2 separate regions of the Homo sapiens genome follow, and region 1 is linked to region 2. Evidence: fine-mapped expression QTL. A gene starts in region 2. The other region holds a variant in brackets. All regions are shown on one strand. Distances are between the middles of the regions. Region 1 overlaps XRCC1 (X-ray repair cross complementing 1). Region 2 holds the start of ZNF575 (zinc finger protein 575).

The links. PIP is the estimated chance that this variant, and not a neighbour inherited with it, causes the effect.
Region 1: its variant is the best candidate, but not a certain one, in a credible set for the expression of ZNF575 in whole blood (INTERVAL, PIP 0.85).

Annotation. Positions count from the first base shown.
Region 1 is chr19:43,566,691-43,571,076 of GRCh38, forward strand. The region is part of intron 2 of XRCC1 (X-ray repair cross complementing 1); the gene reads right to left. Among named protein-coding and RNA genes, the nearest start is that of XRCC1, 6.6 kb to the right of the region's middle. The variant G/A (reference allele first, on the strand shown) is at 2,427.
Region 2 is chr19:43,531,298-43,535,683 of GRCh38, forward strand. ZNF575 (zinc finger protein 575) reads left to right here and starts at 1,891. Exons shown (of 4, transcript NM_174945.3): 1 at 1,891-2,224; 2 at 2,498-2,605; 3 at 3,040-3,204; 4 at 3,732-4,386. The coding sequence starts at 3,126. RefSeq lists silencers at 1-29, 1,997-2,306.

The DNA of each region.
Region 1 (4,386 bases), 35 kb after region 2:
CAACACGGCGAAACCCCGTCTCTACTAAAAACAGAAAAATTAGTTGGGCATGGTGGCATGCGCCTGTAGTCCCAGCTACTCAGGAGACTGAGGCACGAGAATCACTTGAACCTGGGAAGCAGAGGTTGCAGTGAGCCGAGATTGCACCACTGCATTCCAGCCTGGGCAACAGAGCAAGACTCAATCTCAAAAAAAAAAAAAAAAAAAGGTTTATATATACATGGTAACAACCCAATAAATGTCCATCAGTTGATGAATAGATAAACATTGTACAGTATATTTATGGAATATCATCCAGTTATTTAAAAAACTGAAGTTGTGATATATGCTACAACATGGATGAACCTCAGAAACATTATGCAAAGTGTAACAAGGTTAAGTGTAAAAGACCACGTATACATTTATAAGTCCAGAATACGCAAATCCAGAGAAGCAGAAAGTAGATCAGTGGTTGCCAAGGGCAACATTGGGGAGAGAATAAGAAGTGACTGTTTAATGGTTATGTGGTTTCTTTTTGGAGTGATGAAAATATTCTGAATTAGAGAATGGAGATGGTTGAAGAACATTGTCAATATGCTAAAAAAAAAAAAAAAACCCTGAAATGTGCACTTTATTTATTTATTTATTTATGTTTTTTGTTGAGACGGAGTCTCACTCTGTTGCCCAGGCTGGAGTGCAGTGGTGCAATCTCAGCTCACTGCAAACTCTGCCTTCCAGTTCAAGTGATTCTCTTGCCTCAGCCTCCCGAATAGCTGGGACTACAGGCACGCACCACCACCCCCGGCTAATTTTTGTATTTTCAGTAGAGATGGGGTTTCACCATGTTGGCCAGCCTAGTCTCGAATCCCTGACCTCAAGCAATCCACCCGCCTTGGCCTCCCAAAGTGCTGGGATTACAGGTGTGAGCTACCGCATCTGGCTGAAATGTGCACTTTAAATGGTTAAAACAGTAAATTTTATGTGAATTTTTCTCAAAATAAGAGATGAGTGCTCAGTATGTATCAGCTGTGAGGATAAGAGCACAAGATGACTATCACCGATGGCCTGGGTTCGTGTGCATGCAGCTTTCTCAGGGAGACACAGTTCTGATATGAACTGTTCCTGAAACAAACATGGCACAGGAAGGCAAAGTTCCTGAGATATATTGCTAAAAAACTGTTTCACATCCATGAAATGCAATCTTTTCTTTTTTTTTTTTTTTTGAGACAGAGTCTTGCTCTGTCACCCAGGCTAGAGTACAGTGGCACGATCTCGGCTCTCTGCAACCTCCGCCTCCCGGGTTCAAACAATTCTCCTGCCTCAGCCTCCCAGGTAGCTGGGATTACAGGTGCCCACCACTGCACCTGGCTAATTTTTATATTTTTAGTAGAGACAGGGTTCCACCATCTTGGCCAGGCTGGTCTTGAACACCTGACCTCGTGATCCACCTGCCTCAGCCTCCCAAAGTGCTGGGATTACAGGCGTGAGCCACCGCGCCCGGCCATGAAATGCAATTGTATGCATCATTTAAAAGAATAAGGTAGGCTGCGCACGGCGTGGCTGACGCCTGTAATCCCAACACTTTGGGAGGCCAAGGCAGGAGGATCACTTGAGGTCAGGAATTCAAGACCAGCCTGGCTAACATGGGGAAACCCCATCTCTACCAAAAATACAAAAATTAGCCAAGCCTGGTGGCATGTGCCCGTAATCCCAGCTACTAGGGAGATTGAGGCAGGAGAATCACTTGAAGCTGGGAGGGGGAGGTTGCAGTGAGCCACGATCGCACTACTACACTCCAGCCTGAGTGACAGAGCGAGATTCTGTCTCAAAGTAAGTAAGTAAGTAAGTAAGTAAATAAATAAATAAATAAATAAGGTAGAACTTCATGCAGTGTGCATCTCCAAAATACACTGTTACTTGAAAAAAAACACACAAGGGAACAGTGTATATACTATGAATTTTTTAAAAAGGGATGGAGGCGGTAGGTATATATGCTTGTATGTGTACAGAATGACCCAGGAAGACCACCCAAAAAAACTGCTAATGGTGGTTGCATCAGGAGAGAAGAATGAGGGAGCAGGAGTTGGGGAGGGAGCAGGAGTTGGGGAGGGAGCAGGGAGGGATGGAAAGGGTGAGGGGAGATTTTCTTTTTAGTGTATACCCTTTTGCACCTTTTGAATTTTGCACTATATGCATATAATACCCATTCAGAAAGCAAATATAATAAAACCCCAATGGCCAGGTCTTTGTGGCTCTGTCTGTAATCCCTGTAATCCCAGCTACTCAGGAAGCTGCCTCCAAAAAGCTTAAAAAAAAAAAAAAAAATTAGTTGGGTGTGGTGGTGTGCACCTATAGTCCTAGCTACTCAGGAGGCCAAGTTGGGGGATCACCTGAGATCAACAGTTCAAGACCAGCCTTGGCAACATAGTGAGACTCCGTTTAAAAAA[G/A]AAAATCAAATATAAATAAATAAAACCATAATAGTTATCTCAATACAACAGAATACTATACAGAAATGACAATAGGCCAGGTGCAGTGGCTCATGTCTGTAATCCCAAGGATTTAAGAAGCTGAGGCAGGAGGAATGCTTGAGTCCAGGAGTTCAAGACCAGCCTAGACAACACAGTGAGACCCCCATCTCTGCAAAAAAAATACAAAAATTAGACTGGTGAACTGGCACATGCCTGTAGTCCCAACTACTGAGGAGGCTGAGGTGGGAGGATCGCTTGAGCCCGGGAGGTCGAGCCTGTAGTGAGCTGAGATGGTGCCACTGCACTCCAGCCTGGGCAACATAGTGAGACCCTGTCTCAAAAAAAAAAAAAAAAGACAATAGGAGTCGAGCACAGTGGCTCATGCCTGTAATCCCAGCACTTTGGGAGGCCAAGGCAGGTGGATCACTAGAGGTCAGGAGTTCGAGACCAGCCTGACCAACATGGTGAAAACCTGTCTCTACTAAATACAAAAAATTAGCCAGGCGTGGTGGTGCATGCCTGTAATCCCAGCTACTTGGGAGGCTGAGGCAAGAGAACCACTTGAACCTGGGAGGCGGAGGTTGCAGTGAGCTGAGATTGTGCCATTGCACTCCAGCCAGAACAACAAGACGAAACTCCGTCTCAGAAAAAAAAAAAATCACAATAAATCATCTACAGCTACACTGAACGACATAGATGAAATGAACAAACATAACAAGGGAAGCCAGATAAGAAAAGTTTATACCACACGATTCCATTTTATATGCAATTCAAAATCAGGCAAAATGAATCTATGCTGTTAACAATCAGGACAGTGGTTACCCTTGCAGGGGTACTGACAGAAAGAACCTGAGGGAACTGCTGGGGGCTAGGCATGTTCTGTGCTGCATCTGGGTGTGGAGTACACAGGGCTGCAGTTTGCAAAGAGTCACTGAGCTGTACTCTTACTTACACCTTCACTTCACTCTATGTATGTTACACATCAAAAAACAGTAAAAACAAATTTAAGACACCACAGTGGCGAACTGAGTGATTAGAAAACCAATAACAATCAAAAATGACCATAGGCCCTATTGCTGATGAACATTTCTTCTAAAAATGACACACCTCCAGTGACACACCAGAGTTATATCTGGGTCTTGTCCAAGCCACCCCTCCAGCCCAGGAGTAGTTAGCAAAGAGGTTGGCATTTCCCTCTGGGAGCAGGTGATGAACAGACAACAGAGCCTGCTGTGGCTACTGCAAACAACCAGGTGTGTGGGGCTGTCATAAGCAGATGGCTAAGCCCCATGTGGTAAGATCGAGATTTTGCATAACAATAATTAGAGGAGAAAATGCAGGGTAGTAGAAGAACCCACAGATGTGGCCAGGTGCAGTGGCTCATGCCTGTAATGCCAGCACTTTGGGAGGCCAAGACAGGAGGACTGCTTGAGCTCAGGAGTCCGAGACCAGGCTGGGCAACATAGTGAGACCCCATCTCTACGAAAAATTTTTAAAATTAGCTGGGCCTGGCGGCACACGCCTGTAGTCCCAGCTATCTGGGAGGCTGAGGTGGGAGGATTGCCTGAGCCCAGGAGGTTGAGGCTACAGTGAGCCATGACTTTGCAACTGCACTCCAACCTGGGCAAGAGAGTGAGACCCTGTCTCAAAACATAACATAACAACCCAGAGATAAGCCTACTGCCTTGGTGGCCAGAAATGTCTGCCTTTATCAGTTACGTCAAAAGAATCAAAATTAGCATTTGATGAATCCAGAGTAACCCCACAAATTAGTCATTGCCAGATGCAATCAGTCATTCCAAAGGGTCTCTGACGTGGAGTAAGTTAACAAAACAACTGCTGCAATGCTGATCTCCCACTCCTGTGTGTGGCCCCTGCAGTTGATTGTCAACATGGAGCCAGCAGGATCCTGTGAAGGCCTAAGGCAGATCCTGTCCCT
Region 2 (4,386 bases):
AAAGAGGTGGGCACAGTGGCTCACCCCTGTAATCCCAGCACTTTGGGAGGCCAAGACGGGTGGATCACGAGGTCAGGAGATCGAGACCAGCCTGGCCAACATGGTGAAACCCTGTCTCTACTAAAAATACAAAAATTAGCTGGGTGTTGTGGTGAACACCTGTAATCCCAGCTACTTGGGAGGCTGAAGCAGGAGAATCGCTTGAACTCGGGAGGCAGAGGTTGCAGTGAGCCAAGATTGCGCCACTGCACTCCAGCCTGGGGGACACAGCGAGATTCCATCTCAAAAAAAAGAGAGAGAGAGAGACCGAAGTGTCACTTCAAACTAATACAATGTGTGGAGCTCATTTAGATCTTAAGTCAAGCAAATCAAGTGTAATAAAAAGATATTTATGAGATATGATGTTTGACATTTAGCTTCAGAATCATTTGGGAAGAGTGGATGGGGGGTAAATCAAACAATACTGGTCATGAGTGAATAATTATTTTAAAAACTTTTTTTTTAAAGATACGGGGTATCACTCTGTTGCGCAGGCTGGAATGCAGTAACACAATCATAGCTCATTGCAGACATGAACTCCTGGGTGAGTCCCCACTCCCTACCCCCGTGAAATAGCTGGGACTACAGGCTGCCATTAAGCCAGACTTTTTTTTTTTTTTTTTTTTTTTTTTTAAGATGGGGAGGTGTCTCACTATGTTGCCTAGGCTGGGATTTTTGTTTGTTTGGGTTTTTGGTTTTTTTGTTTTTTTGAGACGGAGTCTCACTCTGTTGCCCAGGCTGGAGTGCAGTGGCTTGATCTTGGCTCACTGCAACCTCTGCCTCCCAGGTTCAAGCCATCCTCCCACCTCAGCCTCCGGAGTAGCTGAGATTACAAGCGTGTGCCACCATGCCTGACTAATTTTTGTATTTTTAGTAGAGACGGGTTTTCACCATGTTGGCCAGGCTGGTCTCGAACTCCTGACGTCAGGTGATCCGTCCACCTCCGCCTCCCAAAGTGCTGGGATTACAGGCGTGAGCCACCGTGCCTAGCCCCCGTCTAGTTTGGAAATCCTGGGCTCAAGTGATTCGCCCGCCTCTGCCTCCCAGAGTGCTGGGATTACAGGCATGAGACAGGGAGCCCGGCCTAGGCACTTTCTAGTCTAAACACTTTCCATTGATTATCATATTTAATCCTAAAAACGCTCCATTTTATAGATGAGGAAACAGGCCTAGAAAGAGAGCTAGAAAGGGTCACACGGCTAGAAAGTGGCACAGCCGTATTCCAAACCAGTTACCCAGGCAATCTGGCTCCAGAGTCCAAATAACCCCGCCAAACTCCCAGGGATCGCCAGACCTTGCGGGTTATCGGACTGAGACCCACCCATGCAGAGGACTTTTATGGGCATTTCCTGGTCCTTTCTGCACCAGGCAGGAAGGTGCACCGCCACTGCTCGGGAAGAATGCTAAGCTGCATGCCACCCCAGGCCTGGCACCAAGAGCATGGGCCAGGGCACCTCGGGACCACCCAGGCTTCCGAGGGGGAAGGTAGATGGGTGCGTGGCTGAGAATCTTGAATCACCCAATAGCGAGGTGTGCCAAGGCGCTGTGCAAATAACGTGCCTTTTATTGGGCACTGGCTCTCTTTGAGCCCGGAGTCCCGCCCCCGCCCTCTCTCGAAGAACTGGCCAGACTTTTTGCAAACGCCTTGAAGGGTAGAATTAGCAGCGAGCTCTTGAAACTGCCTCTGGAGATGGAACTCAGCGGAATTCTCGAAAAGAAGAGGGACATTAAAAAGACGGGTGCATGCACTGATTTCCAAGCGCAGTTTGTCCATGTTAGTCTTGTACATGCTTGACTCCAGTCAGCCACCGTAGGCCCCGCCACCGGCGGTGCACTTTCTGTCGATACGGTAGCTTCGCGCTTGCTCACGAACTTGCCTGCCTGGCTGGCGCACCCAGCCCCTCCTTCCATTCCTTCTTCCCCCTCTCTGCAGCCTCTGCCAGCCCGCACTGCGCATGCTTTCTGACGCCCCCTTTGGTCCAGCGTGGGAGGAGGGGATGGAAATGAGGTTGGGCTAAGCAGCTTGCGCGCGCTCCCTTGCCTGCCCTCCCCCGACGCCGGACGCGCGCCGGGCGGGGCAGCTCCGCTGGTCCGAGGGCAGTGCAGCAGCGGCGACAGCGGCTGCGGCCGTGGCCGTGGCGGGAGGAGCCGGAAGCCCCGCCCCCGGGGAGGGGCCGTCCTGCAGGTGAGGGCGCAGGGGTTCGGGCGCGGATATTGGCTTGCAGGCTGAATGCCAGAATCACCCCGAGGGAGATCGGTTGTGGTCCGGACGCCTAGATTCTGGAGATGCTGGAGGGACTGTGCATTGGTGCCAGAGCCTCGGGAGGGTGCATCGGTGCCTGAATGTCTGATTCCGAGGGGTGCATTGAATCCTTTACGCTTGGGACTCTGAGGGAAAAGTCCATTAGGGGTCTCTGGACCGCGACGCATGCCAGGTTCCTTCCGTATCTTCCTCCAGGTCCCCCCTCTATCCTCCACGGCCCCATCCAAGCCAGGGATGAAATTTAACGGCAAGAAGGGCGCAGTTGACGCGGCGTCAATGAACTGAGACTAAGTCAAAAGCCGGGTAAAGCTAGGTCTTCGACGTGAAGCCCCGCCCACTGTGCCCATAGGCCCCTCCCCTGGGACGGTGATGAAAGACCTGCCCACTCCGCTCGAAGGCCCCCGCCCCCTGGGTCTAGTTTCAGAACAAGACTTTTTTTGTACAGCCCCGCCCATTCCAGGACTGCAGGGTCTGGTGGGGAAGGTCCCGCCCACTCTGCGCATAGGCCCCGCCGGCTCCGCGCTTAAGACGGCCGCTGAGTTAGTTGTGGAGACTCCGCCCACTCTGCTGAAAGACTCCAACCCTGGGTTTAGATAGCGAAGGGACTGCCTCTGGCTTGAATTTGCATAGCCCCGCTCACTGTGCTCTTAGGCTCCGCCTCCCCGCTAAGCCTGCCCCCGCCTTAGCATCCCATACTTGCAGACCTTGCTCCTAAACAGTGTGATCCCTCATTTTAGGCCCTCCAACCCTATCCCCATCAGCCTGGTCATCACCGGCGTCACCCCCGCCCCGCGCCCTGCCCCTAGGTTCCTGTGCCAGCAAGATGCTGGAGCGAGGCGCGGAGTCCGCGGCCGGGGCTACCGATCCTAGTCCCACTGGCAAGGAACCAGTGACCAAAGAAGGTGAGAGTGCCCCGCCTGTGAGTAGGGAGCATTCTCCAGGAACGGGGGCCAAAATAATCACATTCTGGGGGAATCTCAGGGTGAAAATTTGAGGGCCCTAGGGTGATGACTATTTGGGATCCCCAAAACTGCCACATTCTGGGAAATCCTCCCATTTGGCTCAGAGAGAGCCTCAGTGACCATTTGCTAAGGCTCAGGAAATGAGCCTTACAGAAGGGACGGGTCAGGGATGACATGCGGGATGTCAGGGTGATCACTGGGAAGATACTAGAAACGGATACCTTGGTAGCTTTGAGGAAGCCTTAGTAGCTTTGGGGATCCAGGAAAGTAACCCTTTGGAGTCCCTCAGAATGACGCCTGGGGGGAGGGGGGAGCAGAAACATGCAATTTGGGGAGTCTCAATGTGATGCTTGAGGTGCCCAGGTACACTTGGAGGAGCCCCACGAATATCAAAGTCGTGGCGGAGCCTGGCCTAGGCCCAGGGCGTTGGCTGCTTCCTGGAGCCCACCAGCCCTCCTGTCCCCCAGCTCCCCACCAGGGCCCACCGCAGAAGCCCAGCCAGTCAGCTCCAGGGCCCACCGCGTCCGCGGGCTCGCCTCCCCGGCCTCGCCGGCGGCCCCCGCCCCAGCGCCCGCACCGCTGCCCCGACTGTGACAAGGCCTTCTCGTACCCGTCCAAGCTGGCCACGCACCGCTTAGCACACGGAGGCGCCCGACCCCACCCATGCCCAGACTGCCCCAAGGCCTTCTCCTACCCCTCCAAGCTGGCAGCCCACCGCCTCACGCACAGCGGCGCCCGCCCGCACCCGTGCCCACACTGCCCGAAGTCCTTTGGCCACCGCTCCAAGCTGGCGGCTCACCTCTGGACCCACGCACCCACCCGCCCCTACCCGTGCCCCGACTGCCCCAAGTCCTTCTGCTACCCTTCCAAGCTGGCGGCCCACCGCCACACGCACCACGCCACCGACGCCCGCCCCTATCCTTGCCCGCATTGCCCCAAGGCTTTCTCATTTCCCTCCAAGCTGGCCGCCCATCGCCTATGTCACGACCCCCCAACCGCGCCCGGCAGCCAGGCGACTGCCTGGCACCGATGCTCCAGCTGCGGCCAGGCCTTTGGCCAGAGACGCTTACTGCTCCTTCATCAACGCAGCCACCACCAGGTGGAGCACAAGGGGGAGAGAGA